6 separate regions of the Homo sapiens genome follow, and all the other regions are reported to be linked to region 4. The links are microRNA targets in miRTarBase. Many come from high-throughput screens and were not tested one by one. Region 4 holds a microRNA gene; each other region holds the end of a gene's coding sequence.

Region 1 (5,076 bases), not on the chromosome of region 4:
ATAGAGCCTTGCTTTGTTGCCCAGGCTGGAGTGCAGTGTCACAATCTTGGCTCATTGCAACCTCCGCCTGCTGGGTTCAAGTGATTCTCCTGCCTCAGCCTCCTGAGTAGCTGGAATTTACAGGCTCCCACCACCATGCCCAGCTAATTTTTGTATTTTTAGTAGAGACAGGGTTTCACCATGTTGGCCAGGCTGGTCTGGAACTCCTGACTTCAAGTGATCCACCTGCCTCCCAAAGTGCTGGGATTACAGGTGTGAAAAGTGTAATTTTTCTGAACTTCATTTTCAACATCTAGACAACTGAGGGTAAAGCCTACTTTTATAATGCCCTATGAGGAGTAAAACTATAAATTAAAATGTACTACCACTAGAAAGCATATTTGCAAGCAAATGTGTCACAAGGTCCTAGGCAGTGCTAGCTAAGAGGGGCCAGAAGTTGTGTCTATTAACCAATTAACAGATCATTCAAGAAGTAAAATTTCCCAAAGTAAGTGACTTTCACCTTAGGTGATTTTTCTTTCCCAAATCTGGCCCTAAACTGATCTTGATGCTTGCCCAACCCCAAAGCCCATGCCCAGCCTGAGCCTCAGCAAGTATGTAGCAGCACAAGATGTGCTGCAGGGTGAGGAGGCAGGTGCTGGGGGCAGAAAACACAAAGAACAAAGCATGCTTTCCATGTGCTCCCTAACTTGTGGATATAAATATGCATTGTCTAAATGGAATAGTTTAGAGTTTATGTGATTTCCTTTAAAGACTTGTAGCCTGGGCCAGGCACGGTGGCGCATGCCTGTAATCCCAGCACTTTGGAAAGCGGAGGCAGGCAGATCACCTGTATCCAAAGGCAGGAGCAGAGCCCTAGTTATTTTTCTGTTCCCCCTACAATGCCTTAAAGTGTACCAGCACTTAATAAATGGTTTTTGAAAAGACCACTCTCCTTGTCTGAGGACTACACAGGCCTGAGTGCCTAATGATCCTCAGTGTGCATATGCAAGAAAAGCTAAGGAGCAAAAAAGCTGTTAAGGAGTGGTTTCACCCCTTTCAGTAGTAGGGAAATTTGCTGGCGGCAATATACACCACTAGAAATGGTGCCTGCCTTTATATTGCTCATGCTAATCTGTAAAGCTGGGGTTAAACTGAAGTCACTATACTGGAAGCTGCTCCCCTTTAAGCAATCATTATCAAGAACGTATATCTGGTTAGACTGTTTAGTTTGCCAGGGCTGCCACAACAAATTGCCATGGACCGGGAAGACTAAACAGAAATGTATTGTTTCCCAGTTCTGGAGGCTGGAAGTCTGAGATCAAAGCAATGGCAGGACTGTTCAGAGGGCTGTGAGGGAAGGACCTGTTCCAGGCCTCTTTCCTTGGGCTTGGAAATGTCTTCTCCCTGTTTTCACATCATCTTCCCTCTGTATAAGGCTTTGTCCAAATTTTCTTTTTCTAAGAACACCAGTCATATTGGGTTAGGTCCTAACTTAAGGACTTCATTTTAACTTAATTCCTTCTTTAAAAACCGTATCTCCAACTACAATCACATTTTGAGATTACTGGAGGTTAGGACTTCACCATATGAATCTGGTGGTGTTGGCAGGGGGCGGTGTGTTCACCTGTAACAGACCATAATCACTTGTGTATATGGAGATATGTCATTCCTTAGTGTGTGCCTCCAAGTTTGGTGATCAGATCATCAAGTTTACATACTTGATGAGGTGCTGACAGCCTCTGGCATGTTTATGCTTCTTGAGACACAGGTAAAGGAGTGTTTACTAGAAAGCGGGGACACAGGTCAAGCGTGAAAAGGCTGACGAAGACTCTACTTCCTGTTACCTCTTTGCCCTCTGAGAATCTCAGCACAACAAAAATGCCAGGATTATGAGCCACTGACCTTTTTGAGAAGGAAATGCCAAGCATACAGTGAGCTGCAAGAATACTCTGAACTAGTTTATAGGCTTTGGCCTTGAAAACTCAAATTATTCCAGTTTTATTTATATTACTAAAATCTAGAGCTTCTTGGATATTCTATATGTCAATTTTTTTTAGTGTAGAAACCTATGTTAAAATGAAAAATGTAGACTAATGGGAAACTAAAGAATATCAGCTACTGTTTATGTTGAGCACTGTGGGAGCCACTGACACGTATGAACTTAACATCTAAACAGTATAATGAAGCGGCGCTCTTAATACTCTCCATTTACAGTTAAGGGAAGAGGCATAGAGAGCTTACATAACTTGGCCAAGGTTACAAACCTTCATCACACAGCAAAGCCCACACTAGAGAACATTCTGCAGGGCTCCAGAGCCTACATACACATCCTGCCTCTCACCGTGACCATTTACTCAACAGCAGCAAGGCCACCCAAAATGGGCAGAAAAGGCTGAAAACATTCATGTCAAAGGGCACTTACTTATTTATTCATCTTGTGAAAATGACTTAGAATTTAAAATTAAGAGGTAAAAAAATGGAGAGACAGTTGTAAATACTAAGCACTAACAGCTACAACTTCACTAAAAAGGTTTCCAAGCTTCCTCTGCTGTTTGTGTTCCTCTGACACTAGGCGTAACTATCTTGGGCATCATTTCAGTCTTGGGAATGAAGGAAGTGAACCCAGTGTGTGCTACTGAGATAAAGGAAGAAAGGGAGCTTAGAGTCCCAGTACCAGTGGTTTCCTGGGTATGGGGGAACCAGCCAGCTGGATGCCTTTGGCAAAATGCTGAGTTTGAAGCTGCCCTAGGAACCAGAGCTGCCCTGAGGGAGGCGTCACGACCCAGTGTCAGCAGCCAACCCTAACCATCCGCAACACATCCCCCAACCCTCCACTGCAGACCTGCCACATTTCTCCAAGGAGGTAACAGAGTAAAGGCATACCTTAGGCAGGAACAGGGCAGAAGAGGGTTGGAAGCACAGGAAGCAGTTTGTCTTAAGTACTAACAGCAGAAACAATAAGAATATGATCTCAAAAGCTAAAATACTCTAGAAATGCTCTCTTCTTCTAACCTCAGAAAGATTCAAATTGTACTTGACTTTCCCTAGAAGACTCACTCATCTCCTTCCTCCATGAAATGAGACTACCAGAGGAATCCTGTATTTTAAAAAAGTTTAATTTTAATCCTTCCTAGAGGAATACAGATTTGAATGAAATACATTCATTCCATAAATACATTAGCAGCAAAACCTTCCCACCAGAGTCCTCTACTCCAGCCCAGAGGTTGTGCCTTGAGCAGGAGAGCATGTTCCATCAATCCTGTCAACTTAAGGGTGGGTCTGCTTCTGAGAAACGCTGGATGTGCATGGGAGACACAATGACCAGGTGCATGGGTGACTTAACTAAGCTGGGACCCTGAAAACAGGCCCATGTGGTCACTATTCAGCCTTCTTTACCTTCCAAAAATCCTTTGGCATCTTCCATGCTTCTCTGATGAGGTTCCTCAGCACTGAGACAACTGGGAAGACCTAACTTTGCACATGCATTAAATAATGTTATTTTGAGTTGGCAATGTTTTAACACTTTTCATAAGGTAAATGAAACATAAAAGATTATTCCCTTCCTTCCCTTCCTCAGGTGAGTCCACATGTACTCATCAGGAGACAATCCAGCAGGCATTATTTGGGCTCTCTGTATCTCCAGGCCCCCTTTGTCTGAATGGCTGGATGTTTACTGGAGACAGGGAGCCATGTCTAAACCTACAAAGATCTCCACGTTACAATAACCAGGTGACTTGCTCAGGCTTCCATCAAAGCTAATTTCTTGGGCAGAGGCCAGGCATCTCTCCTCTTGTTCTCTCCATCACTGACTACTGACTGACTGCTGCTTTTTTATTTGCCCTCCAGGCACCTGCCGAAACTTTGGAAAACAAGATCTACCCTAAACTTCCAAGTGGCCAGGAGCAGTTAAGGCAGGTCCTGCTTTAAACTTACTAGCTGCCAAGTAGCACACTTATGCTGCTGTGTCCCAATCCATTCTGTGGTGAGTATAAGTCACAAGAGTCTGCATAAAACACTATCAGCAATCAGGATGGCTATGGGGCAAGGACCGTTTAGAATGTTACCAAGTCACAGGACCAGCAGGAAAATGGAATAATGGAAGAATGTGAAATAAATCTGATTTGTTTGAGCAGAAGGCAGCTTTGATTCAGGCATAAATGCATCTCCCAGATTATCATGTAAATAAAGACCTCAGAAGTTGACACTTCCCTCCCAGTCCACCACTTAAAACAGGACACATGCTCAGTTTTCCCAATCTGTTTTAAAGTGTTTTCATTAGGATACTCTTCTGTAAGTGCTTTATTCATTCCCAGTCTGTTTTGATTACTGGCTGAAAATAAATCAGGAACCATTTTATATAAAAACCATTATAGTAGATAACTGGTTATGTGTATTTTTCCATTTGCATTTTCATCCAAAATTGCTTGTTTCTTTTCCTTTTATTTATGTGCAGAAAGAGACTCATCCGCTGAATACACAGCACTGTTAATCCTACAGTCTTCTGTCCCCACAGAGTCTGCTAGATCTTCCTCTTCTGAGTCATCCTCTTCTTCCTCCTCTGGTGCTGACGAACTGGAGGTGGGCCCTTTGCAGGTTTTCAGGTGGCGGGTGAGATGGTATTTGGTTAGATAAGCCTTTGTACATTTTTCACAGACATAATCCCGTTTTCCTTCATGAGAATTGAGATGCTTCTTTAAGTGATTTGTTCTCAAGAACAGCTTATCACACTTGGGACACTTGATCTGGCGTTCTCTAAGAGGAACACAAGAAAAAACATTTGATTTGGGGTTACAAATAACAACTGAGGCAACACTTATTCTTCATAGCCGCAGGCCTTTGTCAGAGCAGCTCTATCCTTCTGAATCAGGCTTTTGCATAGGTGATATACAGAAGACTCATAAAACATGTATAGTTTAAAACAGTGTAGGCTCATTTTTCCTGTTTTAGAATACTATGTAAATTCTCAAATTCTATGTAAATTCTATATGTATTTCTTTTGTCTTGCTGCATTCTCTCAGTATGATGCTCATAAAATTCATTCAAGCTGCTGTATCAGTTGTTTGTTCCCTTCCACTGCTGTATACTATTTACAAA
Region 2 (5,071 bases), not on the chromosome of region 4:
AAATCAGATGATTATTGACCTTCTTGAGACAAGAGGGTACATGAGAAACTAATTACTAAACAGCTTGACAAATGGCCTGAGTAGATACTTACTGCTGTACACAGGATGTTGTATAATATTTTGTAAAGCCTGTTGTTTTTGGAAGTATTTATGGTAAGCTTTCTTAAAAATTATTATGGTAAATACTTCTGAAATCCGGCGTACTTTTCTTTAAGCTTTGTCATTTCTGTTATGATTTTTCATGGTGAAATTTTGGTACTGAGATGGGCATTCTCTGTACCTTTATAGTACCACTCCAAAGGCAAGGAACCATGATTGACAACAGTCAAGCTGTGGATGAAATGACCAGGAACGGAGAATGAAGTATGTAAATCCCAGCTTCATAGGAACTCTTCTCATACTGCTTTTCAGATTAAAATTGCTGTTTACCTGGTCTCCGAATGTAATGCCTGACTGTGTCATTGCCCGGATCAGTTTTCCCCCTGCCCCATCAATATGTTCTCTTGCATATATTGGCGTGCTGCCATATAAAGTAAAAATACTGGAGATATTCTATATTTTATATATAGGTTTATGTGTTGTTGGGGATGTTTTCATTGTGCTCTTTTGGACATAATAAATAATTCTCTATTGAGGCTACATTCTTTTTTTTTTTCTTTTTTTTTAAAAGAATGGCATCTCACTCTGTTGCCCAGGCTGGAGTATAGTGGCTAAGTCATAGCTCACTGCAGCTTCGAACTCCTGGGCTCAGGCCATTCTCCTGCCTCAGCCTCTTGAGTATCTAGGATTATAGGCATGCTCCACCACACCTGGTTAACTTCATTTTTATTTTTTGTAGAGATGAGGTCTCACTATGGTGCCCAGGCTGGTCTTGAACTCCTAGACCAAGTGATCCTCCTCCTTTGGCCTCCCAGACTGCTGGGATCACTGCACCGGCCAAGGCTGCATTCTTAACCCAACTAGATTGTTTACTGAATCCCATATGACAGCGATACATTGTCCTTACATATTTATTTTTAGACATTGCAAAGTTATTAAAAACAGTTAACTATAGTTTTTACACAACGTAGGCAACAATGAAGAGTATAGACTGTAAGATTTTCATCTATGACTCATAAATCTGGGAGAAAAAAATTATTAAGACTAATGAGAAACTGAAAACCTTAAACTAATGAATATTATTTCTGCTGCTAAAAATATGAAACTTTCTGGTCTGTAGTTGAAATTTGTATGATCCTCTAGACTTGGGTATACTTTTCATCTGGTGCCATTAAAGCATCTCTAATATTGATCCTAAATATTTGTAAGTCCATGAGCAGTGAACTTTGGAATAAGTTTCTGTGTAGATACCCAAAGTTTAATAATTATGAGAGCACCTGATTTGATAGACAGAAAATACAGTTCTTTAGTCAAAACACAAGATCTGAATTTTGTTCAGGTGCTAGACCATACTAAATGTATATATTTTTAATTATAGTGATTTGTTTCATTTTTTTAGATTGGCTAATTCTGTAATTTTTTCCCCAAAAACATGTGAAGAAAGGAAAAGTAAATTAAATTCCTTAGAACTGTTTTAGGTTAAGATTCTCTGTGTCTGCCCATATTCTGCAGTCCTTAACTTGTTTTCAACTCTTTACCTCACTCATGAACTTGTTTTTACCCATTTGCTGCCAAACATAGGTGTGTTCCCTTCAGGAGAATCAGCATATACAGGTTATGATAGGCTCCCACCATTTATGCTTCTTCACTGATAGGGTTGCATTACTTTCTGCAGCAGACTATAATACTTCATATAGTACTGCTGTGTCTCAACTGGAAAGGTCAGGAATTTTAATGTTACGTTGTGGTCTTTGAAAACTGTTAGGCCTAGCAATAGATAAATCTCAAAATTAATTTTAAAATCTGTATTGACAAGAATAGGTAAAATTATGACCAGGAATCATTGTTACCCTTAGTTCCAAGAGGTGGTTTTTGAAAGAGCAAGAGGAAAGAAAAAAGAAAAGAAGGAAAGAAGAATAAAGAAGAGAAACGTGTAAGAATGGTTTGCAGATTGATTGGTTAAAAGTGTTTTTAGCACATCCCCAACCCTGAAAACTTCGCATTAAGAGCCAAGCACAATGTTGGTAGCTCCAAGATATTCTGACTGTGTTCTCAGAATGAGGGATTACCCATCACTGGGTATTCCTTCCCAAGTAGAAACTTTAGATTTTCACTGGTAATACACATTGCCAAGTTTTATGGGAAATCTGAATATACTGTGAAAATGCATATCTGGTTAGTTGTCTGCTGCCCAGATCTTATCAATACCAGTAACTAACCAGTATTTAACATAAAATGATACAAATAAAGGCCTTTTTCTATTTCAGTGAGGGTACATTTTTCTTGATATATATGTACTTTAAGGATATTGGATCTGTTTATGGATCTGTTTTAGGAAACAGATTTGCAAGGGATAATTGTATATATAGTAGTATTTAGGTTTATTTCAAATTCATCTTAGGGATGCCTAGATGCATAATTTTTACCAGGACATATTGAAAATATTGCAAAGAGATAGCCAGTTATATTATCCCATTCATTAGAAATTACCAGTGTAACTAAACATAAATATTCCAGTTTAGAGTGCTTAAACGTAGCTATCTTTCTTAAGGCCAGGAGGGTAACTTTGTGGTATCTAAAGGGCTTAAATTTCAGAATGCAGAATAAATTGCCTTTTTAAAACCAAGCATTTTGTACAAGCTTTTATTTTCAGTTTTTTAACTACCAAATAGGTGTGATGTACTTTAGAAGTAAACAAAGATGTTCACCCATGATAATGGATGTTAAAGCTCCTGCAGTTGTTCTTTTCGTGTTTAAAGGGTATATTCTAATAGTGGAAGCATCAAACATGTCAGTGATTTCATCTCATTCAGAAATAAAGAGATTAATATTGGTCTTTATTTTTTGGCATTTTAAGTTTTATATAAATGGATGCAGATGGAGATTATCACCCACAAATATATTTAAATGGATTTTTCTTAATTTGAATTTCAAGTAATCTTTTTATTTCAAGTAATTAGTTACGCATTTAGTTACATTGCCAGTTTTTTTTTTTTATCAATTTCAGTAAGACAAAATATACTAAAATGTTTAAATAGCCTCATTCAATCTTACATTTTGACATTTCAGCAATCATTCTGGCTTACAGTAATTAGATCCCCTGTTACGACACATGCCCTTTGTTCTTAATAACTAGCAAAAAAAAAAAAAAAAAAAAACTTTCATCTTGTTAAAATACTTTGCCAAATGAAATAGACTAGTCAATACATCTGATGTCCATAATTATTGGTAACTCAGTTACCTTCTAACTAATAGGCTGGTTCAGGAGACTCTCCCAGTTTATAAATGGTTCTCTTGGGAGCCTTTGGAAGCTGTATTAAATCTTTCAGTCTTTTATTTCTAATTTTTTCTCTTAATCTAAATAGAGGCCAGTTATCTATTTTATCAGCTTTTATTCTTGAAGATTCTCAGATTATGTTTTAGTCCCTTTTAGCTTTAATAGTCCTTGAAAAATACATTACTGTATAATGTGGCAATTCTGTAACAGAGACTTATTACTTGAATGAATAATCCTAAAATTTTAATATTTTAGCTGAAGTTTGAGATTTGTGGAATGAACAAAAGAATTAGAAACTTTCATATGTTACTTTGTTTCAGTCATCTGCAAAGTATGAAGCTGTAATTCTGAAATACACATCCAAGTGAATGAGAATTAAAAATTTTCTAAATATTAATACTAACTGGGAAAAAAAAACTAGTGTGAAGTTTACAGTTAGAAGAAACAGACCCAAAGTTGCCAGAAGGTAATAAATAAATGTAGTTTTCACTGTAAGTAAGTTATTGACGTAAGATGCTTTATTTGTAATATATTTAGATTTTGAAAGTTATTGAGAGATGAATGTATAAAAGCTAAATTTTCTTTTCTGAAGCAGTGAAACAAAATTGGGGTAACAAGGAAGCTCTGTTGTGGCAAACATGTCTATGAGGAATATTAAAACTAAGCATACTCCCACAGGCTTTAAACTCAAACTATGAACATTTAAATTAAGTTGTTCCTTATTTTGCCTATACCCATTTTTATCTTTCATTGTCGTTTTTGCTTGACAGTATGGTGACAGAGTATTTTTATTTGGAAAGTCCTCAGCAAGATGAATTAGCCAAAAGCAATAATGGTTCAGATTAAACAATAAAGTGGAATTGATTCAATCCCAGGCTCAACTAAGAACAGTCGCTCTCTGGATGTTTCATTTTAGACGATAGATAAGTTGAGATGTTGTAATATTTATGGGGGGTTAAGCCTGTGTCAGTTATGGGATGAAGACTTGTAGTACCAGTACCATCAGTGGTCATACTTTTTTTTAACTTTTTACTAAACTAATACAGTTAGACATTTCCACTCTATCGTGATTATATTTTTATGATGGGAAAATAAAAACACTTCCATGTTTTTATAAATAGTCTCTGCAAAGATTTCAGATGTTATTGGTATCTCGGTTTGGCAGTATCTGAAAAATTGAGATTGTCTTTGAAATGTTTGTGCTACTTTTACTTAAGTAAACCCCCACTGTGCAAGACCCAGGCCGGCTTCAGCTAATACCAAGGTTTCTGTGTGCATAATAGTTTACAGAGAACTTAAGAGTAAGGACTGCGGATTAAAAACAAAACTTTTTTTAACTTTAAAATTTTTAGTTTTTGTTCAAAGTACCTGGTTTATAAAGTCAAATTCTTTTATTAGTTCCTTTCTCGTTTAAATTGACTGATGTTGCTGATGAAGCTTAAAGTCCCAGGCACGGTTGTGGCGATATACTGATAAAATTGGTGCCTAGTGGTGGGAGGAGCTCCAGTGTCAGGACTTTTATTAAAAGGCCCTTGTTTTCCCAAATGCCAATCTAGCCACATTTAGATTTCATTATTCAATAAAACAGATGAAAAATCATCCCATAAATGAATGTTGAGGTTACCAAAGTACATCACCTGCTGAGGAAGGATAAATCTTCCTGCTTTAAGGGAGCCCTGTCATCTCTCCTCTTAA
Region 3 (5,076 bases), not on the chromosome of region 4:
CATAAACGTTATCTATTGTGTAGTTATATCAACTTTTTTCAAATCCAAAGAACGAGGACATAACTCATACAAATTTATTTTAAATAAGCCTTAAAATCAGAATTAAATTGATAAATGAAGTAATCTATTGAAAAATGTTATTTTACATCCATTCTGGGTATTACCACAAATTTTAAAAGTAGAAGCATAGCATTTGCCAGTTATTTTAAAAAACCGAGTCAATACAAATTAGTCTCAAAGTTCTTGAAAATTAATAAGTGATTTTTCTCACTACTTAACCATACCTGGAATAACCTTTGAAGAAACACTACTAGCAAACTTTAGACAACAATTATAAAACCAGATTGTTGGCAGAGGACACAACAAAATGTAAGTTAGAAAATTCATAAACATACATTTATTCAGGAAATACAATTACTAGAATCCTTGATATTTCAATGATCATTCCACATTATAAAATATTCACAAACATGTAGTTTTTTAAGTCTACACCAGGTCATGCTGACATTCTTTTTGGATAAGCCATAACCATTTCTTCTATTAAATGCTATAATATCCATTTTAATTGTAAACAAAGTACTTGAGCCAGACTACTTAAGTACTTGAGCAAAATAACTTAAAAAAATCTTAAGAGGAGGAGGACAATGATATTTTTTAAAAACATATTTGAGGCTGGGCATGGTGGCTCACGCCAGTAATTCCAGCACTTTGGGAGGCCGAGGCGGGCGAATCACGAGGTCAGGAGATCGAGATCATCCTGGCTAACACGGTGAAACCCCGTCTCTACTAAAAATACAAAAAAATTAGCCGGGAGAGGTGGCACACGCCTGTAGTCCTAGCTACTCGGGAGGCTGAGGCAGGAGAATTGCTTGAACTGCCTTGAGGTGGCGGAGGCTGAAGTGAGCCGAGATCACACCACTGCACGCCAGCCTGGGCAACAGAGCAAGACTCTGTCTCAAAAAAAAACAAAAACAAAAAACAAAAAAAAAATTTGAATCGTCAAATCCTAAAGAACTAGGCTGCTATTATCTAGTATTATACTAACAAATGAAGTGCCCACATTAAGACAGTACATAATTATTAACGACAATATTTCTCATCTGCAATTTTTAAACATGCTTTCTCAAATAACAAACACGTATTTTTGTAAGTTTTAAAGGCAAAGGGGGCAGAATGATGACAGACATAAAAAGCTCACATTTAAATTACTGGTAGATTTTATTAAAAAAAAGAAAAAAGAAAAAAAAAGATAAGACTGTAATTACTTCCCAAATAAGGAATGCCAAGTACCTTTTATTCCTAAAAGAAATTACTTGGCCAGGTGCAGTGGCTCACGCCTATAATCCTAATGCTTTGGGAGGCTGAGGTGGAAGCCAAGGAGTTTCAGGCTGCAGTGAGCTATGATCACACCACTGTGTTCCAGCCTGGGAGACAAAGCAAGATCCTGTCTCTTTTAAAACAAAAAACAAACAAACCAAAAAAAAAACAAAAAAAAAACCTAAGAAATGTAATTAATCATTAAGTAGCTGCAAATTGAACTGTTCTATTTTGATACTTCCTAAGAGTGTCCAGTGTAATCAGATCATTTTATAATGGGTTATTGACCCTAGGTGTCCTTTAGAACCACCTGGAAAGCTTTACAAAAAAAAAAAAAAGGGTGATTTTGATTTAGTTGTTATGGAATAGGACCCAGGTATCAATTTTTTAAAGCTCTGCCAGGCTAATATGTAGCTAAGATTGAGAATCACTAAGTCAACACATTTTGATATATCAAGAAAATAAATGGAAATGGGGGTGATAATTTATATTTGTAATTTACAAATCAAACATCTATCATACACTTACTATGTACCTAGTTTTATTCACGAATCATCCATTTCTAAGATAAAAATTCCCATCATTTCCTCACTGCACTAAACCACCACTGTACATCTTTGCCAATGAATGACTGTATTTTTCTATGGTCAAGATTTAAAATTCTGGGATACATTATGAAAACTGCATTAATGAAAACAACCTACTGCTATTCATGCTCAACAGTAGCAAGCTAAACTACTGTACTTGGCTCCTTTGAGCTACCCTTATTTTAAGAATTATAAATAGGTGTCAACCCACACAAAGAACAGATTGTGGATTACCGTAGGGAAAAAAATAGCTTACTCAACTTACTAAAAGTTTCAACACCAAAAAAGATTTAACTTGGCTGAAAGTTCTGAAACAGCTGAGACACAGAACCAGGAAGCTATAATTTATAATGAAATGTTGATACATACTTAAAAGCTACTGCAGCTGTAGCTATACTAAAATAAGATTTCTTCAGGGTTTACTTACCCTGAAATGCAAGAATACAAGCATAACAATAATATTACTGTTTTTATATGCACCAATACCTCTCTTTAATATATAAAGCTCTACAACAAATACCTCTAATAATTTTACAATTAAATTAAGTCCATACTTCTATACTACTTTGGTCTCAACATTTTTAAAACATCAATTAATTTTGAAAATTTACAATTTAACAACATGATCCTATCAATAACAAGCACATTTTGTAGTGGATTAAAGACACATTCAACCATGCAATCCAGTGTTCAATACCTTAATGATAAATAACAATGCTGATTGACTTTTATTTTGAAAAATCATTGAAAACTGGAATAATCATCTGAGACTCACAGTGATCACAAACATGCAGAAAAAAGCATACAATTCTATTCTTCCTGAAGGAATGTTACAAAATGCCCACTTTTTTATATAGGGTCAATATGCCAAATTACTTATATTTTTCAATCCATCATCTTCTAACATTTGTCACTTAAATTTTTCTTAAAGTACAAATGTTCCTGTAAGTTGTAACAGAAAATGAACCCCAACTCTTTCAGTCTTTAAGACCTCAGTCACAGTCCCACACTAATAGCTGCCTTTTAGTAAAATAGTGACATCCAGTGGACAAATGAAATATTTCTCAAATTCCCATATTTGAATCATAAACAAAAGTTGCCTCTTTAAATCCAACAATTTTAGTATGAGTTCCTACTTATTTTGATGGAATCTACAGATTCTCATGAATACTTCACATCATAATTTCTATGTATCTTAAATATATCCTCTTTTCTTCCTATTTAAAATCAATTATTTAAATTGAGCTAGTAAGAATGTCTACTCTTGAAGCTAGTGAGGTTAAAGGTATTACTTTTCCTTCTTTGCTTCAGCTACTTCCCACCACCAAATAACTGGTTTGTCTCTAGGAATGGAAGGACTAAAATATAGGGGAAATACTGTGCATTTAAATAAAAATGAATAGTATTTAAAAGAAATCACAAAAGATGAAATCTGAACCTGTTTTGCATTTATAATTTGATGTACGGTTGAACATAAATAGGGATGTAATAAGTAATGCTATCAATTACATCCTCTTGCCTCAATGCTCAAATATTAAGAATATGTATTTTAGCAATGATTGTTTCAGTGTTTAAAAACTTACTTTCATAAATCAGTATAAATGAATATCCATTATATATTATGTTTAAGTAAAAGTGAAAAAACTTGCACTGTACTGAGTCATGATTTACCACTGGTTATATATATTATGTGTGTGTTCAAAGTACAAAATGCAGCAATGATGTTAACATTGACAGTGTAATGAACTGCCGTAGATGAGACTGTTATGCTTAATTTCTTGGAAAACTGTAAAGAAATTTCACAGGTTAAAAAAAATAGAGTAAGCAAAAAAAAAGAATTGGAGAACTTTACTTTTAAATCAGCAGCTAAATGAAGAAAACTTTTCCTTTCTAAAAAAAGATTAAGAATGTAAAAGTACATTTTAATATTAAAAAAGCATTTTAAAAAATCTATAACAACTTTATGACAAAATCTGCATTTGAAAAAGGCCTGTAAAAACAGTAGGACAGAATTGCCCTCATCACCTTTTACTTTTTCTTGTCAGAAAAAAGTGTATGCATCTCTGGAACCATAAATGATGTTAAAATAGGCATTTATAAAATGACAAGGAGAATTTCATGATAAATTTGTTTGTTTTCTTACAATCATTGGCATTGCAGCCATTAGTAAGTCACAAGGAAAACTTCTCTAGCTAAAACGCAAAATGAAATATCAAGTTTTGAAATGTATTAGGTCTGTTGCCTGCGTTTTGCTGATCTCATTTTTTCAAAGCGCGACTCCATTTCTTCTAAGACTTTGGGTGTGTATCGTACCACTAATTTAACCTTTCCTTGTGCGGCTTTCAGCAGTTCTACAGCTTTTTCATGATGTTCTCCTTCAACACTCTAGGGGAAAAAAAAACAACCAACCATACACTAATATCTAAGTTTTGAAAGTAACTCAAAATGCAAAAATGTTTACAATATATATAATGAAGAAAAGTTTTAATGTTATATTATTCCAACATTACAAAACTAAGAAATAATCCTGCCTTACCATTTTAATCTATATGAAATCCTCTCTTACATCATATTCTGTTTATAGTCTAAAAGCTGGCTTTTAAGTTCCAAATAATTAGCATATTAATCTATATGCCTTATTATTTCAGTAGATCAAGCAATTGGCATTTTATAAGAGTAAAATGAGGGTAGACTTCTAATTTAATGTATTGCCTTTAATAAAGAGCTTATGTCATAAAAATGACATTAAGCACTGCTAATTTACACTGCAAAATACACTTATAGTGCTTAAAAAAAAGGATCACTGTATTAATAGTACTGCCTAGGATTCCCTCAAGGCATTTCTAAACCACAAGTTTCTTAGGTTTCTCCTATTACTCAAATACGCCCCCAGGTGGTCACAACAGATCACTACAAATAGAAATAAAATTCATCCTTACCACTCCATTAACAGAGAGGAGTTGATCTCCACGTTTGAGGCCCCCATGTCTATCAGCAATTCCACCTGGAATTATTCGGGATATATAGATTGGAGAGTTTTGTTCTTTGCCTCCCATAATATTGAATCCAAGGCCCTCTTCTGTTTTTGGTAGCTCAACAACTCGAGGATGAGAATGTCCTTCACTGGCAGCAAATGCAGCAACAGTAGCCTGAAAGAAAGTTTTACATATTA
Region 4 (5,076 bases):
CTACTGTTGCTCTTAAAGAGCTTACTGTTTGGAAAACTTGCCAAAAACCTCCAAGAAGGTTCTGAACTGGTAGGTGTCAACCTTGCAACACACAGTTTGGTTCAAGGCAAGTCTTGTACAAGAGGACTCATTGATACCAGAGGCCAAGGCAGGAGAATGGCAGGAGTTCAAGACTAGCCTGGGCAACAAAGTGAGACCCAGTCTCTACAAAAATAACAAATAAAATATTAGCTGGGCATGATGGCATGCTTCTGTAGTTCCAGCTTCTGGAGAGGCTGAGGCAGGAGGAGCGCTTGAGCTGGGAGGCCAGGGCTACAGTGGATGAGCTATGATCACATCATTGCACTCCAGCCTAAATGACAGGGCAAGACCCTGTCTCAAAAAGATAAAATAATTTGGAGACAATATCTGGCTTTCTTCATACTTAGCCCAAGGCAACTCAAGTGTTACATCTAAGGCCGTCTCGGAGTTCACTTGCATCTTTTCTATCTCCCTACTTCTGGATTCCTTTGAATCTAGCATTAAGCCAGGAGTCTAGATTATTGATTATTGGTTATTTCACTCATTCCCACATCTTAATCGTAGCCTCTTATGTGCAAGGCAGCTAGCCGTTGGGCGTTGGGAGCCAGACAATCTCCTGATTTTTACTGAATTCCCCCACACTGAGAGTCCCAATGCCAAGTCTCTGGAATAACCCTTCTGATGCAGTCATCCAAAATCTGTCTTCACAAGGGTTTCTGCAAGGCTTCCCTCTGCAGCTTCCTCACATCTCGGCTGTATGTTGTCTACGTGAGGGGCACAGGAGATCGGTGAGAGGCATCGAAAGTACCAGAGATGCTCACTCAGAGCCTTAGAAATGCCTAGACCGTTCCTGGTGCATAGACAGCATCGATATTTTCGCTGCTCCATTTTTACTGCAACAAATATGAACAACAATTAAATCCATTTTCGTGGGATAATTGCCTGCAACCTGATGTCCTTGTAAGACACATTCTGCAACTTCAGTCATGTGGATTACACAGCACTATTTAAAACCTTCCCATTACCAGATAAGGTGGAGGGAAGGAGGAAAGAGCCAATCCATGGCCAAGTCCATTCCTAGATTGTCCAGCCTTTTGTGTCTGTTATTAAGCCCTTCAAAAGTACACTGCTTCCCTGGAGAGAAAATATATTTACATAGTTCCCAATCACTCCACCAGAGCAGCAGTGGCCTCAAGATAAACCTCCCAGCACCAGGGAAGAGGGGATTACACACACCACAACGAAGTCCAATTATATTGAAAACTAACAGCTAAATTTCTCTGCCCCTGCAGTTCCTAGAGTGTGAAGAGAGAAGGAACAAACGGAAGAAAAAAATTGTTGTAGCGCCTTAATGATGAGTGTGTGAGAAGCAGCCAGTTCCCTGTTCCTGCCGTTCATTTTCTGTGTATCGGTCCCTAACGAGGATTGGCAAGATCTGGAGATTGTCCTGGTCCCTCCTCGTGCCCTCTTTCCCTTATTCAAAGCACTGTGAGCCTCTCTTGCTTGGTTCCAGTTGCCTTGGAATGTGTTTTGGAAGAAATGTCCTGGATAGTCTCCAGGCTTCTTTATATTCTTTCTTTTTAGTAATTAACTTTGTATTGAGTTCTCCCACCAAAATGAACAGCCAGGCCTTCCTTCCAGATAGAAATTGTGGCAAGAAACAAATGGGAGTTGAAATAAATAACATCGTGTTGCTTGATAAATGTATTTGCAGTAGCAACAGAGACTGCCACCCAAGGAGTTCTAATTACGAATCTGACCCTGTAGAGCCAATGCCACAGTTGCTACAGAAAATAAATAGGCTAAGCAGGGCCTGGGGTTGGTTATTTCCATAGACTTGTCCTGGAAATGTTAATCAAAGCAAACCAGAGGGAGCAGGGAGCCAGGGTTATTCTGATAGTGCTAAAAAAATTAAGTTCCCGGCCGAGCGTGGTGGCTCACACCTGTAATCCCAGCACTTTGGGAGGCCGAGGTGGGCAGATCACGAGGTCAAGAGATTGAGACCATCTTGGCCAACATGGTGAAACCCCGTCTCTACTAAAAATACAAAGACTAGCTGGCATGGTGGTGAGCGCCTGTAGTCCCAGCTACTTGAGAGGCTGAGGCAGGAGAATTGCTTGAACCCAGAAAGCTGAGGTTGCAGTGAACAGAGACTGCACCACTGCACTCCAGCCTGGCGACACAGTGAGACTCCGTCTCAAAAATCAAGTTTCTGTTAGCCCTTTGCAATCTGGTCATAGTTCTTTCTCTCTTCCTCCCTCACTCTTTCTTTATGGAAACTATGCCTACCTGTGTATTTTCTTTGTGAAATATGATTTCACACTTTAGCTTATAAAAGAGGTTTTGCCAGGTGTGATCGCTCACGCCTGTAATTCCAGCACTTTGGGAGGCTGAGGAGGGTAGATAACTTGAGGCCAGGAGTTGGAGATCAGCCTGGGCAGCATGGCAAAACCCTGTCTTTACTAAAAATACAAAAATTAGCCGGGCATGGTGGCGGGCACCTGTAGTCCCAGATACTCAGGAGGCTAAAGCAGGAGAATCACATGAACCTGCGAGGCGGAGGTTGCAGTGAGCTGAGATCACACCATTGCACTCCAGCCTGGGCGACAGAGTGAGACTCTCTTCTCAAAATAAATAAAAGGGGTTTTAAAATTTGTTGTGGGGGGCGGGGAGGATTGGTAAAGGCTAGGAAATTCATTTAAAAAGAAGACCCAATGTTTGTCATGGCATCTTCAACTTCCACCCTCAGGGATGGAGGGAGATGTGCACTTGGCCTTTTCTAGTTGGACAGGTGTGCAGGTGAGGGCAGGACTCCTGGGGGCTTTAATCGGCCAGGGTTTGCCTGGTGCACACTGCCAAGAAGGTGAAAAGACGCAGGATAGGGATCTCCTATAGGCGGTAAAGGGATGGGTCAGGTGTAAGTCATCACACGCTCCTAAGCCCTGAGCAAATCACCCAGGATCCGGTGGAGATGACATTGTCATGACAATTCTGTCCTTCCTTCTGCCTTCCACGCACCAGGTAGAGGGGTAGGGCGACTGTCAGAGTTCACTCATGACACAGAGCCCCTCTGCTGGGTCAAGCAGGAAGGGATTCAGGACCGGGAAACAGATGCTTACAGGTCATTGTTGAAAGTGCTGAGGAGGGGCTCTGGCTGGCTCCGGGTTTTCTCGAGCACTGTGTAGCAAACCTGCCAGGACAGCACTGACTACCACAGCCAGGACAGTTCAGAAGCCTGGAGATCAGGAGTCTGCCAGTGGAGTCAGCACACCTGCTTTTCACCTGTGATCCCAGGAGAGGAAGCAGCTGCCTCTGAGGCCTCAGGCTCAGTGGCCTATCTTTACCCCAATGCATGCAGGTCAGAATGTAGCTGAACAGCAGCCCAGGGTCCTGCCCTGCTGCCAGCGGGAAGAAGAAAACAGCCAAAGCAGGAGGTGATCTTACCTACCCCTCCACCTCCACCTCGGGCCCAATTTGCATCCTGAGTCCCTGCACGGGGGCCTGCCAGGGGGACTTCACATGCTCAGCTGATGCAGGTGGAGGGGAAGGGAGAAGGCTGCCTGGATGCGGGGCCTGTCCACCCCTTCCACCCCATACAGCATCTGGTTCTGGTGTGGGTCCTCTCCTCCTCTTTCTCTACACACACACACACACACACGAGAAACACGCAGTCTCACACGTCTGATGCTGCCCCACACGTGTCGCCAACATCAGCCTTTGTCCAGCCTCAGCCTCTTTCCTCTCTGAGGGTTTGGCCACATCCACTGGCACTGCATTTCTTCCCTGCAATTTTGCTACGTCTAAGTATTGTCTCTATTATGATCTAGTTTTTGTCACCTTAGTTGACTTGTTAAGCTGAAATAGTTATTTCAAAAGGAACCAGTTACACAGATGGAAAGCCAGTGTCATTTGTATTAATAGGAGATAAAGGAATAATTAATACAATAAAAAGGGAATGCATCTTTATGAAATATTAATTATCAAAGGATCTGAGTCCAAGGACTGTGCTCTTTACTGAAAAGATAAATGAGTAAAGTGAGGTGTCAAAGATACATTATTCTGAAACTGAGCCTTTTTCATCAGATGGATCAAAAAGCAATTACAGTTGAGCCTTGAACAACAGGGGGCTTGATCTGCATGGGTCCCCCTACATGCTGGTGGTCTTCTACCTCCGCCACCCCAGAGACAGCAAGACCACCTCCACTTCCTCCTCAGTCTACTCAATGCAAAGACCATGAGGATGAAGACCCTATGACAGTCCACTTCCACTTAATGAATAGTGGAATATGAACAGAGAAAATCTATATGAATAGAGAAAATCTATATGAATAGAGAAAATGAATAGAGAATATGAATTGAGAAAATCCATTTTCTCTTATTTTCTTAACATTTTCTCTTTTCTAGCTTTATTGCAAGAACACAGGATACATATAACATACAAAATGTTTTAATCAACTGTTGGTTATTAGTATGACTTCCAGCCAAGAGTAGGCTATTAGTAGTTAAACTTTTGGGGAGTCAACAGTTACTTGTGGATTTTCACTTGTGCAGGGGGCGGTGGAGCAGTTGGTCCCCTAATCCCCCACGGTGTTCAAGAGTCAAATGTGTGAAAGGGTAATACACATTGCTGTGCCTGCCAGCTGAGACGATACAGGACAACAGTGGTCATCAGCTTATACTTTTTCATTTCTCATTTAATTTTTCAAACTATCCTGGAATACGTATTATTCCCAGTTTAAGATGGGGAAGTTGAGATGCAAGAAGAAATTGGACACGGTTCCAGATTGAGGAAGTGGGGGTGCTGGACCTGTACCCAGCTTCTTGACCTGAGTCCTGGGGGCTCCATATGAATCAGAAGGGGGCAACCGTGTGTCAAAGCCCTCAGCTCCCAGCATTAGACTCATGCTTACGACATGCAGCTTTCACCCCTCTTTGATCAAGAGAGGGTTTCTTCTGTAATGTTTCCCCCATTCTGAGATCTCAAGGCAGTTTACCTCAAGGGACATGGTGATGGCTCTTTTCAATCTCTGGGTTGGTTCTCTAACATGAAAGACC
Region 5 (5,062 bases), not on the chromosome of region 4:
CCATCAAGGAGATCCTGGGAGCCCCAAAGGCTCACATGGCAGCGACGATGGAGAAGAGCCCCAAGAGTGAAGTTGTGATCACCACAGTCCCTCTGGTCAGTGAGATTCAGTTGATGGCTGCTACAGGGGGTACCGAGCTCTCCTGCTACCGCTGCATCATCCCCTTTGCTGTGGTTGTCTTCATCGCCGGCATCGTGGTCACCGCGGTGGCTTACAGCTTCAATTCCCATGGGTCTATTATCTCCATCTTTGGCCTGGTTGTTCTGTCATCTGGACTTTTTTTACTAGCCTCCAGTGCCTTGTGCTGGAAAGTGAGACAAAGGAGCAAGAAAGCCAAGAGACGGGAGAGTCAAACAGCTCTCGTGGCAAATCAGAGAAGCTTGTTTGCTTGAGACTGAATACGACCAAATGGGCCATTGGGCCTGGAAAACGTGCTCTGACTTTGTCACCCAATTCACCCAGAACCATGGTGGGAGAGAACAGACTTGGCGTTGGAGCAGACTGGAAGAATGGGGGTGGGAGGGTGGAGGGGCTTCTCCTTTGTGAGGAATGACTCATGTCTTCTTTAACGACAAACTTAACCCTAAGGGCTACTTCTGAGACTGAAAAATCAGCTTTCTATTTACATGAAACACTTTGGGGGTCATGGGAGTGCACAGCATTAGACAGTATTTGGTTCACCCTGTAAAGTAGCCAAGAAAAGATGAGAAAAATCAAGATAGGCCTGGCACACTAGACATTTGCCTCCAAAAGAAATAACCTACAGTCTTAAGATGTATCATAAAAATGTTCTGCCAAGGATCTAAATTACCTTGGGTTTCGCATATGTCTATGAAATTCTGTGATAATTTTTTTCAATACATTGATTCACTGGCGTCTGTTTTCATTTTATACTTTTAATAACTCATCACTGGTGGTACTTTATCTTGAAAAGTAATATTTTTTATATTTTAACATTGGACAGTGTTAGCCAGTTGTAATGATGTATCAGAAGTAAAGAAAAACCCATTAAAGTTATAGCTAATAGATGCTGTTGGGGGTTAAATTAATAGTAAAATAATCCAATATAGCACTTTTGATGATTTTTATATAAAAGTCAACTGTACATTTCATTCAGAATAATAAATACTTATTGCTGCTAAAACTTCTTAAATGGTTGTTTCTGCTATAGTTATTTCTATTGCAGTTCCAAATTGCCATCTTCCCTTGTCTCATTTGCAAGTTCTCAATTGTATTTCTCTCAAATGGACAGGTTCCTTCTTTACTGGAGGATTTTTGTTTTTATCATATTGGTTTTTCATTACTTCTGAATAGTCTTAATTACGTTTACTAAATTCTAAAGGATTTCTGTGCTATTATAATTAGGAAATCAACGTCTTTGGTCAGGAACTTTATAATGTGCTATTAAATGTATATTACATTTTTGTGGAATCAGTTGTTAATTATTTGCTTAACACGTATGCCAGCACCAACTATATGCCAGGCATAATGTAGATTCTCAGGTTTCTTACTCAGTTAGATCTAATACAATGCAAATAAAGTTACTGCTTGAATTCTTCAGTGGACATTGAGCTAGTCCACAGCTAGGACTCTACCCTGTAACTCCAGCCAGAAATACAGCTCATTCATGTAGTTTAAACCACCTTAAGCTAGAATCGAAAGATAGGCATGAAGGTTTCTTAAAACTTGGAAAACAAAATCAGCCTAGCATAGCACACTCATTGAAAGTCTTTCTGTCCAGAAATTTAATTAAACATGACAGGAGCCCTGGGGCCCTTACTACTCCCTCATGCTCAGGTAGTTTTGGTAAGTGGAAACACCCTAAAAATGACTTTGCAGGTCAGATGGTGTCACGTACAGATCAACATTCCTCCCAACCAAATGCAAGTTTAGGGGGCTGTGCTCATTTCAATGCAAGTGAGTCTGTGCCTTCACATGCCTCTTCTCCGTGCAAAGATACTCAAAGCCCACCCCCCACCCCGCCACCGCATTGCTGTATTAAGAAATTACTCAGACAAGGTTCAAGATTCTCCAGTCTGATCCAAAAGGACGTATCCAGTTTTCATACTCACTCTAATCCCCAAACCTCCTTATGAGTTAGCCAGAATAGACTATTCACCATTCTTGCACCCGACTTTGGTTTTCCTGCCTCCATGTCTGTCCAAACTTGTGTTTTCCCTCGCTTATAGTGCCATTGTTTCCTTGATTTTAATCTCCCCAAATCCTGCTTCTCATCAGCACTCAGCTCAAATGCTACCTCTTCCCGGAAGTCTTCCCTTTTATCTGAAAGTAAATGCCCTTTCGTGAGTTCATCTTTTATTCTCTGATGGCATCTTTTATTTTCTGTCGTGTTGGTGGCATAAGTTTTATCCTTATTCCAAAGCTCCTTAGAAGTGTGTGATAGATCCTCTTTTTAACCCTAGTGAAATGCCTAACATAATGGCTTACGGAGATTAAGTACTCAATAAGTACCTAATTAAGGTGCTAAATGAGCCAAAAAATAAAAAATCAGAAAGTGAATGGTTTATCCAGAATTATAGTCCATTCTAATCTCGTTAAAGAAAAAAGTTTAGTTCTCATTTTTCCCCCAAAGAGGCCATCTCACTCTCTATTACACCTCCACTGTAAGCAGCAGTTGGAGGCGAATATTTACTCTCTATTCTTCTCTAGCCTGACCTGGCCTTCAAAATGCTTGAAAAGCAAACTCATGAATTATTTCCGGCCACCAGGGGGCCCCATGCAGCTACTTGAGTCCCAGAAGAAACAGTTCTATGGAAAGACCTAAATTGTAATAACCAAAATGGGATCAAATCTCTCCTAAACGTGAGGAGTTGGTGGAGATTCTCCATTTATCCCACCCTTACACACTTCCCTAAGCCACTTCACAGTGGCTATCTTGGGGTTCTGTTAGTACGGGAAAGACTTGCTCCATTTAGGGAGCTTCTAGTCACATTAAAAGGTATATACTGTTACATAGCTGCACGGCGCAGAGATAGTTCTACACACTGTGAACCCCAACTCCCACGAGGAGAATAAACTCAAATTGGGATTACAAATTATCACAATTATCTCATAAAATGTTTTTATTGGGTAAGGTCTATCTTTACAAATGGTTGTATTATATACAAATATGCAGGTGCGACAGAAAATAAATGAATGCATATAAAATGCATGCATAAATGTATTAAAAAGATAATCTGACTCCTCCCTAGAATATCAGAAACCAGCTATATCACCTAGTGGAATTCCCCCTAAACACAGACATCCCAGAGTGCACAGAAACAACTTTTAACCTTGTTCTGTGCAGCTGGTCTCTGGCCCAGGTGAGAATCATAGCTGTATGGTGGCTCTGCTCCCCATCTTACTCTCTTGGTTAATCTAGGGAATCCTGCCTGGAGAAACTGCACAAGGAGATCACGTGATAGCACAGAAGTTTGAGGCCAAAGGATGAACCCCAGAGAGCCAGATCACAAAGCCTCAAACCTACTTTCCATCACCCGCTCCCCCCCACCATCCCTAAAGAGAAAGAGAGGAATACAGGTGAGAGAGATGTTAAATAGGCGATACATATTCTGGTCTCCAGGCAAGTATTACGGTTCTGAACTTGGAAGATCTTGATATTATAGTGCTCGATAGTGTAACAGCACTCAACTGTACCTGATATTCTTCACCACACTCTGAGGCTGGGAGTATAAGTGTTCACTCCACTTTACAATTGAGGAAACTATAGTTCAGAGAGGTTAAGGGACTGTTCAGCTAAGATCTCACAGCAGGCGAGGCCTAGCACCAGGAACAATAGGTTGACCACACATTGTAGTTGCCCCAGTGTCTTAAACCTCTGGGCTGCTATAACAAAAGTACCATAGACTGGGTGGCTTATAAACAACAGAAATGTTTCTCTCTCACAGTTCTGAAGGCTGCGAAGTCCAATATCAAGGTGCCAGTATATTCCATGTCTGCGGAAGGCCCACTCTCTGGTTCATAAGTGAAGCCTTCTTGCTGTGCCCTCAGATGGTAGAAGGGGCAAAGGAGTTCTCTGTGGCCTGTTTTACAAGGGTGGTAATCCCATTCACGAGAATTTCACCTTCATAACCGAATAAACTCCCAAAAGCCCCACCTCCAAATACCACATTGAAGATGAGATTTCAACATATAAATTGGGGGGTGGAAGGGAACAGACATTCAGTCTATAGCACCCAGTTGTTTTGTTTGTTTGTTTCTTTTTTGAGACGGAGTCTCACTCTATCGCCCAGGCTGGAGTGCAAAGGTGCGATCTCGGCTCACTGCAACCTCTGCCTCCCCGGTTCAAGTGATTCTTCTGCCTCAGCCTCCTGAGTAGCTGGGACTACAGGTGCCCGCCACCACGCCTGGCTAATTTTTGGTGTGTGTTTTTAGTAGAGACAGGGTTTCACCATATTGGTCAGGCTGGTCCCCAACTCTTTACCTCGTGATCCGCCCGCCTTGGCATGCCAAAGTGCTGGGATTACCGGTGTGAGCCACCACGCCCAGCCTATAGCACCCAGTTTTATGCTTAGCCATAACCAAAATCATTTCCAGAATGTCTCTTTAGCAAAAGGAGACAATACAGGTATTACAACATCTACTTTTGAAAAACTCTTGTTAAAGTATAATTTACACAGAGAAAGTTGTACAGCTCAATGAATTTTTATAAACTTGTGGAATTAACATCCAGACAAAGATACTGAATATTGCCAGCACCCAAAAGCTCCCTTTGTATCTACTTTCCATCAGTATCTCTCCAGGCGAAACCACTATGTGGCCTCTAACACCCAGAGTTGTGTTGCCTGTTTTTTAACTTTGCATCAGTGGAATCGTATCAAGTATACTATTTGTTCCTGGCTTCTTCTTGCAACATTATGTTTATGAGCTACAATCTATATGGTTGTACGTAGTTATAAATGGTTCATTCTTATTGCTGTGTAGAATTCCATTGTACAAATACAGTATCATTTATTTAGTCTTTCTACTGTTGATAGACATTTGGATAGTTTCTAGTTTTTAATGACTGAAGATAGTATTTTTGGTAGCCAGCCTCTAACGG
Region 6 (5,076 bases), not on the chromosome of region 4:
AGAACTCAGAGGAATCCACCTCCCTTACTTAAAGGGCCCCTTTCTCTCCTCCTGTCCCTTGACCCTCCACCCCGCCCTATGGTAGTATCCATGGCCTAGCTGCTCTAACCAGGGCATCTGCCCCTGGTCCTGTCTCCACAGAGCACTACAAACACCACTGGTTTCCCGAAAAGCCGTCCAAGGGCTCCGGCTACCGCTGCATTCGCATCAACCACAAGATGGACCCCATCATCAGCAGGGTGGCCAGCCAGATCGGACTCAGCCAGCCCCAGCTGCACCAGCTGCTGCCCAGCGAGCTGACCCTGTGGGTGGACCCCTATGAGGTGTCCTACCGCATTGGGGAGGACGGCTCCATCTGCGTCTTGTACGAGGAGGCCCCACTGGCCGCCTCCTGTGGGCTCCTCACCTGCAAGAACCAAGTGCTGCTGGGCCGGAGCAGCCCCTCCAAGAACTACGTGATGGCAGTCTCCAGCTAGGCCCTTCCGCCCCCGCCCTGGGCGCCGCCGTGCTCATGCTGCCGTGACAACAGGCCACCACATACCTCAACCTGGGGAACTGTATTTTTAAATGAAGAGCTATTTATATATATTATTTTTTTTTAAGAAAGGAGGAAAAGAAACCAAAAGTTTTTTTTAAGAAAAAAAATCCTTCAAGGGAGCTGCTTGGAAGTGGCCTCCCCAGGTGCCTTTGGAGAGAACTGTTGCGTGCTTGAGTCTGTGAGCCAGTGTCTGCCTATAGGAGGGGGAGCTGTTAGGGGGTAGACCTAGCCAAGGAGAAGTGGGAGACGTTTGGCTAGCACCCCAGGAAGATGTGAGAGGGAGCAAGCAAGGTTAGCAACTGTGAACAGAGAGGTCGGGATTTGCCCTGGGGGAGGAAGAGAGGCCAAGTTCAGAGCTCTCTGTCTCCCCCAGCCAGACACCTGCATCCCTGGCTCCTCTATTACTCAGGGGCATTCATGCCTGGACTTAAACAATACTATGTTATCTTTTCTTTTATTTTTCTAATGAGGTCCTGGGCAGAGAGTGAAAAGGCCTCTCCTGATTCCTACTGTCCTAAGCTGCTTTTCTTGAAATCATGACTTGTTTCTAATTCTACCCTCAGGGGCCTGTAGATGTTGCTTTCCAGCCAGGAATCTAAAGCTTTGGGTTTTCTGAGGGGGGGGAGGAGGGAACTGGAGGTTATTGGGGTTAGGATGGAAGGGAACTCTGCACAAAACCTTTGCTTTGCTAGTGCTGCTTTGTGTGTATGTGTGGCAAATAATTTGGGGGTGATTTGCAATGAAATTTTGGGACCCAAAGAGTATCCACTGGGGATGTTTTTTGGCCAAAACTCTTCCTTTTGGAACCACATGAAAGTCTTGATGCTGCTGCCATGATCCCTTTGAGAGGTGGCTCAAAAGCTACAGGGAACTCCAGGTCCTTTATTACTGCCTTCTTTTCAAAAGCACAACTCTCCTCTAACCCTCCCCTCCCCCTTCCCTTCTGGTCGGGTCATAGAGCTACCGTATTTTCTAGGACAAGAGTTCTCAGTCACTGTGCAATATGCCCCCTGGGTCCCAGGAGGGTCTGGAGGAAAACTGGCTATCAGAACCTCCTGATGCCCTGGTGGGCTTAGGGAACCATCTCTCCTGCTCTCCTTGGGATGATGGCTGGCTAGTCAGCCTTGCATGTATTCCTTGGCTGAATGGGAGAGTGCCCCATGTTCTGCAAGACTACTTGGTATTCTTGTAGGGCCGACACTAAATAAAAGCCAAACCTTGGGCACTGTTTTTTCTCCCTGGTGCTCAGAGCACCTGTGGGAAAGGTTGCTGTCTGTCTCAGTACAATCCAAATTTGTCGTAGACTTGTGCAATATATACTGTTGTGGGTTGGAGAAAAGTGGAAAGCTACACTGGGAAGAAACTCCCTTCCTTCAATTTCTCAGTGACATTGATGAGGGGTCCTCAAAAGACCTCGAGTTTCCCAAACCGAATCACCTTAAGAAGGACAGGGCTAGGGCATTTGGCCAGGATGGCCACCCTCCTGCTGTTGCCCCTTAGTGAGGAATCTTCACCCCACTTCCTCTACCCCCAGGTTCTCCTCCCCACAGCCAGTCCCCTTTCCTGGATTTCTAAACTGCTCAATTTTGACTCAAAGGTGCTATTTACCAAACACTCTCCCTACCCATTCCTGCCAGCTCTGCCTCCTTTTCAACTCTCCACATTTTGTATTGCCTTCCCAGACCTGCTTCCAGTCTTTATTGCTTTAAAGTTCACTTTGGGCCCACAGACCCAAGAGCTAATTTTCTGGTTTGTGGGTTGAAACAAAGCTGTGAATCACTGCAGGCTGTGTTCTTGCATCTTGTCTGCAAACAGGTCCCTGCCTTTTTAGAAGCAGCCTCATGGTCTCATGCTTAATCTTGTCTCTCTTCTCTTCTTTATGATGTTCACTTTAAAAACAACAAAACCCCTGAGCTGGACTGTTGAGCAGGCCTGTCTCTCCTATTAAGTAAAAATAAATAGTAGTAGTATGTTTGTAAGCTATTCTGACAGAAAAGACAAAGGTTACTAATTGTATGATAGTGTTTTTATATGGAAGAATGTACAGCTTATGGACAAATGTACACCTTTTTGTTACTTTAATAAAAATGTAGTAGGATAAACTTGTGTGGTGTAGAGAAGTTAAAATCCTCACGTTGTACATTTGTGTTTCCCTTTCAGATCCAAATCCTTTCTTTGTGTTTAATAGTATTTCTCCTCACTTGCACTCAGACAATCTATAGCATGTGGGTGGTATAAAAGAAAAATCTGGTTGTATGGCTGGGCCATTTCCAAGCATCCCCTCTTTCCTGGAAAGTAGCTCCTTACTTCCCTCCGTTTTGTTTGTTTGTTTGTTTGTTTTGAGACAGTTTTGTCACTCAGGCTGGAGTGCAGTGGTGCAATCTCAGCTCATTGCAACCTCTGCCTCCTGGGCTCAAATAATTCTCCCACCTCTGCCTCTTGAGTAGCTGAGATTGCAGGCATGTGCCATCAGGCCCAGCTGATTTTTGTATTTTTTGTAGGGACGGGGTTTTGCCATGTTGTCCAGGCTGGTCTCAAACTCCTAAGTTCAAGTGATCCCCCTGCCTCTGCCTCCGAAAGTGCTGGGATTACAGGCGTGAGCCACCGCGCCCAACCTACTTCCACCTTTAATGAGGATTCTAATTTCCCTGTGAAGATGCTAGAAGTAACAGGGTTCTAGTCTGAACATTCCCTAGTCTAGCCAGATCTCCATCTTATGCATCTTGTTTTTGATAGTCGTTCATTTCATTCATTCATTCATTCAGTCAGTTATTCATTTAGCAAGCATGTATTGTCAGTAAGTGCTAGGCACTGAACTTATTAAAAATCCTTGAGACACAGCCTGTCTCACAGACCAGGGTTTGGTAAGCAGCGGGTAATGAACTCCTTCCCAGGCTAAGGCAGGATTGTTGGCAATTCCCAGAAAAGGTGCTCTTGTCATCTCTGGGGCTGTCATTTGCTATCCACCATACTTGTCTTGTTAGACAAGAGCAGCTAGGCCTCAGGATCTATGCACTGGAGCTGAATGCCAATGCTACAGGTTAGCTAGAGAGCAGCTACTTCTGACAGCAAACACTGGAGTGAGAGCCAAAAGTTTGTTACCAATTTGTAACTCCCTTTGGTTACATGCAAGGAAATAACAGTTTTTATCTTCCCTGACTTTTGAGTTCTTTCCATGAGATTTTTGACACAAGCCCAGAGTTTCCCACTGAGGGCAAGTACATTCCCAGCCTGGTCTAGTTTTTTCTTGGCTGTAGGTGAGCTGTATTTATTTGTTTATTTATTTATTTCTTTTCTTTTCTTTTTTGAGACGTAGTCTCACTCGCTCTTGTCGTCCAGGCTGGAGTGCAGTAGTACGATCTTGGCTCACTGCAACCTCCGCCTTCCGGGTTCAAGTGATTCTCCTGCCTCAGCCTCTGGAGTAGCTGGGATTACAGATGCCTGCCACCATGCCTGGCTAATTTTTGTACTTTTAGTAGAGACGGGGTTTCACCATGTTAGCCAGGATGGTCTCGAACTCCTGACCTGAGGTGATCCACCCTCCTCGGCCTCCCAAAGTGCTGGGATTACAGGTGTGAGCCACCGCAGCTGGCGGTGACCTGTATTTAAACTAAACTTTACACATGTTGCTTCATATACAGTGACAACTCCCCCAACTTCATTTCTTACCTCCATGACCTTTATCAACAAACATACAGTTTTCCCTAGATGTGCTATGTTGGAAGTAGCCCAGGGAGGCTGTGTGTGCTATGCCTGTGTTGAGTGAGGAGGGTAGGGGAGCCAGGGATGGGGTTAGGGAAGGCCAGGTCATCTGTATCATAAATAGAATTTGGTTAAGACTCATTGTATCAAGGGGTTGTTACTGAAAGGAGTAGTCCCATTTTTATTTGTAGCTTCTGAAATAAATGTCCTAGACACTTGTTTAAAAAGACCTACTTTTTTGGATGTAAGGACAGGGTTAGTTAGGGTTGAGGAATTTTTGCCCACCCTCTTTTGAGTGTATGGTACAAAGTCAGCATCTATCTTCCTGATTCCTAAAAGGCCTAGCTCATGAAGGATATTTCCTTGTTTAGTGGAAAGCCTGAAATTCGGGGAAGGTTGTCTGGAGACTGAGGGGACCCTTCACCCACGTGTGTCTTCAAGTCAGGGAAGCCACAGCATGGCAGATTCACCTCAGGGCCACTCTCGGCTGTTGGTAAACTAGTAGTCCCTCAATTTACATGAGAGGGTTCTGTGGTCAAGCAATGTGTTTTCTTTTTTGATATGAACCAATTTCAGTAGAACTGGAGCATACCCATTGGCTACCTGGGGTTACAGGGGCTCTGGCCTGAAATTGCTTGAAGAGTTGCAGTTGGTGGCTTTCATGTGTTCAGGGACTAGGCATTGGTTGGTCTGTTCTGCTTCCATCTTCTCCACTTGGTAAGCAGTGCCAGCCTGGGAGACCTGTGGTCAGTCAGCTGTTTTTGAATGATAATGCACCTCCCCAGAGAGTGTAGACAAGGCTCTGCATGCTGCAGATTAAGAGCCCATCCTGGATC

The links. Region 4 holds the annotated microRNA hsa-miR-646 (AAGCAGCUGCCUCUGAGGC, at 3,322-3,340, shown strand). A microRNA usually pairs through its seed, bases 2 to 8, with sites in the 3' UTR of a target mRNA and lowers its output. Matches are read on the target gene's strand: a 7mer-m8 pairs with bases 2 to 8, a 7mer-A1 pairs with bases 2 to 7 and ends in A, and an 8mer does both.
Region 1: miRTarBase lists PRDM4 as a target of hsa-miR-646. Seed matches in the 3' UTR shown: 7mer-A1 at 3,161-3,167.
Region 2: the mRNA of ZBTB44 is a reported target of hsa-miR-646. The part of its 3' UTR that is shown has no 7-base or 8-base seed match.
Region 3: miRTarBase lists LIN7C as a target of hsa-miR-646. Seed matches in the 3' UTR shown: 7mer-m8 at 3,766-3,772.
Region 5: miRTarBase lists TMEM100 as a target of hsa-miR-646. Seed matches in the 3' UTR shown: 7mer-A1 at 1,135-1,141.
Region 6: miRTarBase lists BTG2 as a target of hsa-miR-646. Seed matches in the 3' UTR shown: 7mer-m8 at 657-663 and 7mer-m8 at 1,056-1,062.

The regions. Positions count from the first base shown.
Region 1 is chr12:107,729,789-107,734,864 of GRCh38, forward strand. It overlaps PRDM4 (PR/SET domain 4), which reads right to left. Exons shown (of 12, transcript NM_012406.4): 12 at 3,083-4,734. The coding sequence ends at 4,422. Among named protein-coding and RNA genes, the nearest start is that of PRDM4-AS1, 4.2 kb to the right of the region's middle.
Region 2 is chr11:130,228,600-130,233,670 of GRCh38, reverse strand. ZBTB44 (zinc finger and BTB domain containing 44) reads left to right here. Exons shown (of 8, transcript NM_001301098.2): 7 at 289-363; 8 at 1,956-5,071. The coding sequence ends at 315. Among named protein-coding and RNA genes, the nearest start is that of ST14, 71 kb to the right of the region's middle.
Region 3 is chr11:27,494,516-27,499,591 of GRCh38, forward strand. LIN7C (lin-7 cell polarity scaffold C) reads right to left here. Exons shown (of 5, transcript NM_018362.4): 4 at 4,844-5,053; 5 at 1-4,289. The coding sequence ends at 4,134. Among named protein-coding and RNA genes, the nearest start is that of LIN7C, 9.7 kb to the right of the region's middle.
Region 4 is chr20:60,305,213-60,310,288 of GRCh38, forward strand. MIR646 (microRNA 646) reads left to right here and starts at 3,262; the gene lies at 3,262-3,355. The region is part of intron 3 of MIR646HG (MIR646 host gene); the gene reads left to right.
Region 5 is chr17:55,715,996-55,721,057 of GRCh38, reverse strand. It overlaps TMEM100 (transmembrane protein 100), which reads left to right. Exons shown (of 2, transcript NM_018286.3): 2 at 1-1,431. The coding sequence ends at 392. Among named protein-coding and RNA genes, the nearest start is that of TMEM100, 4.3 kb to the left of the region's middle.
Region 6 is chr1:203,306,963-203,312,038 of GRCh38, forward strand. It overlaps BTG2 (BTG anti-proliferation factor 2), which reads left to right. Exons shown (of 2, transcript NM_006763.3): 2 at 142-2,640. The coding sequence ends at 476. Among named protein-coding and RNA genes, the nearest start is that of BTG2, 4.0 kb to the left of the region's middle. RefSeq lists enhancers at 1-776, 193-432, 777-1,719 and a cis regulatory region at 4,723-5,076.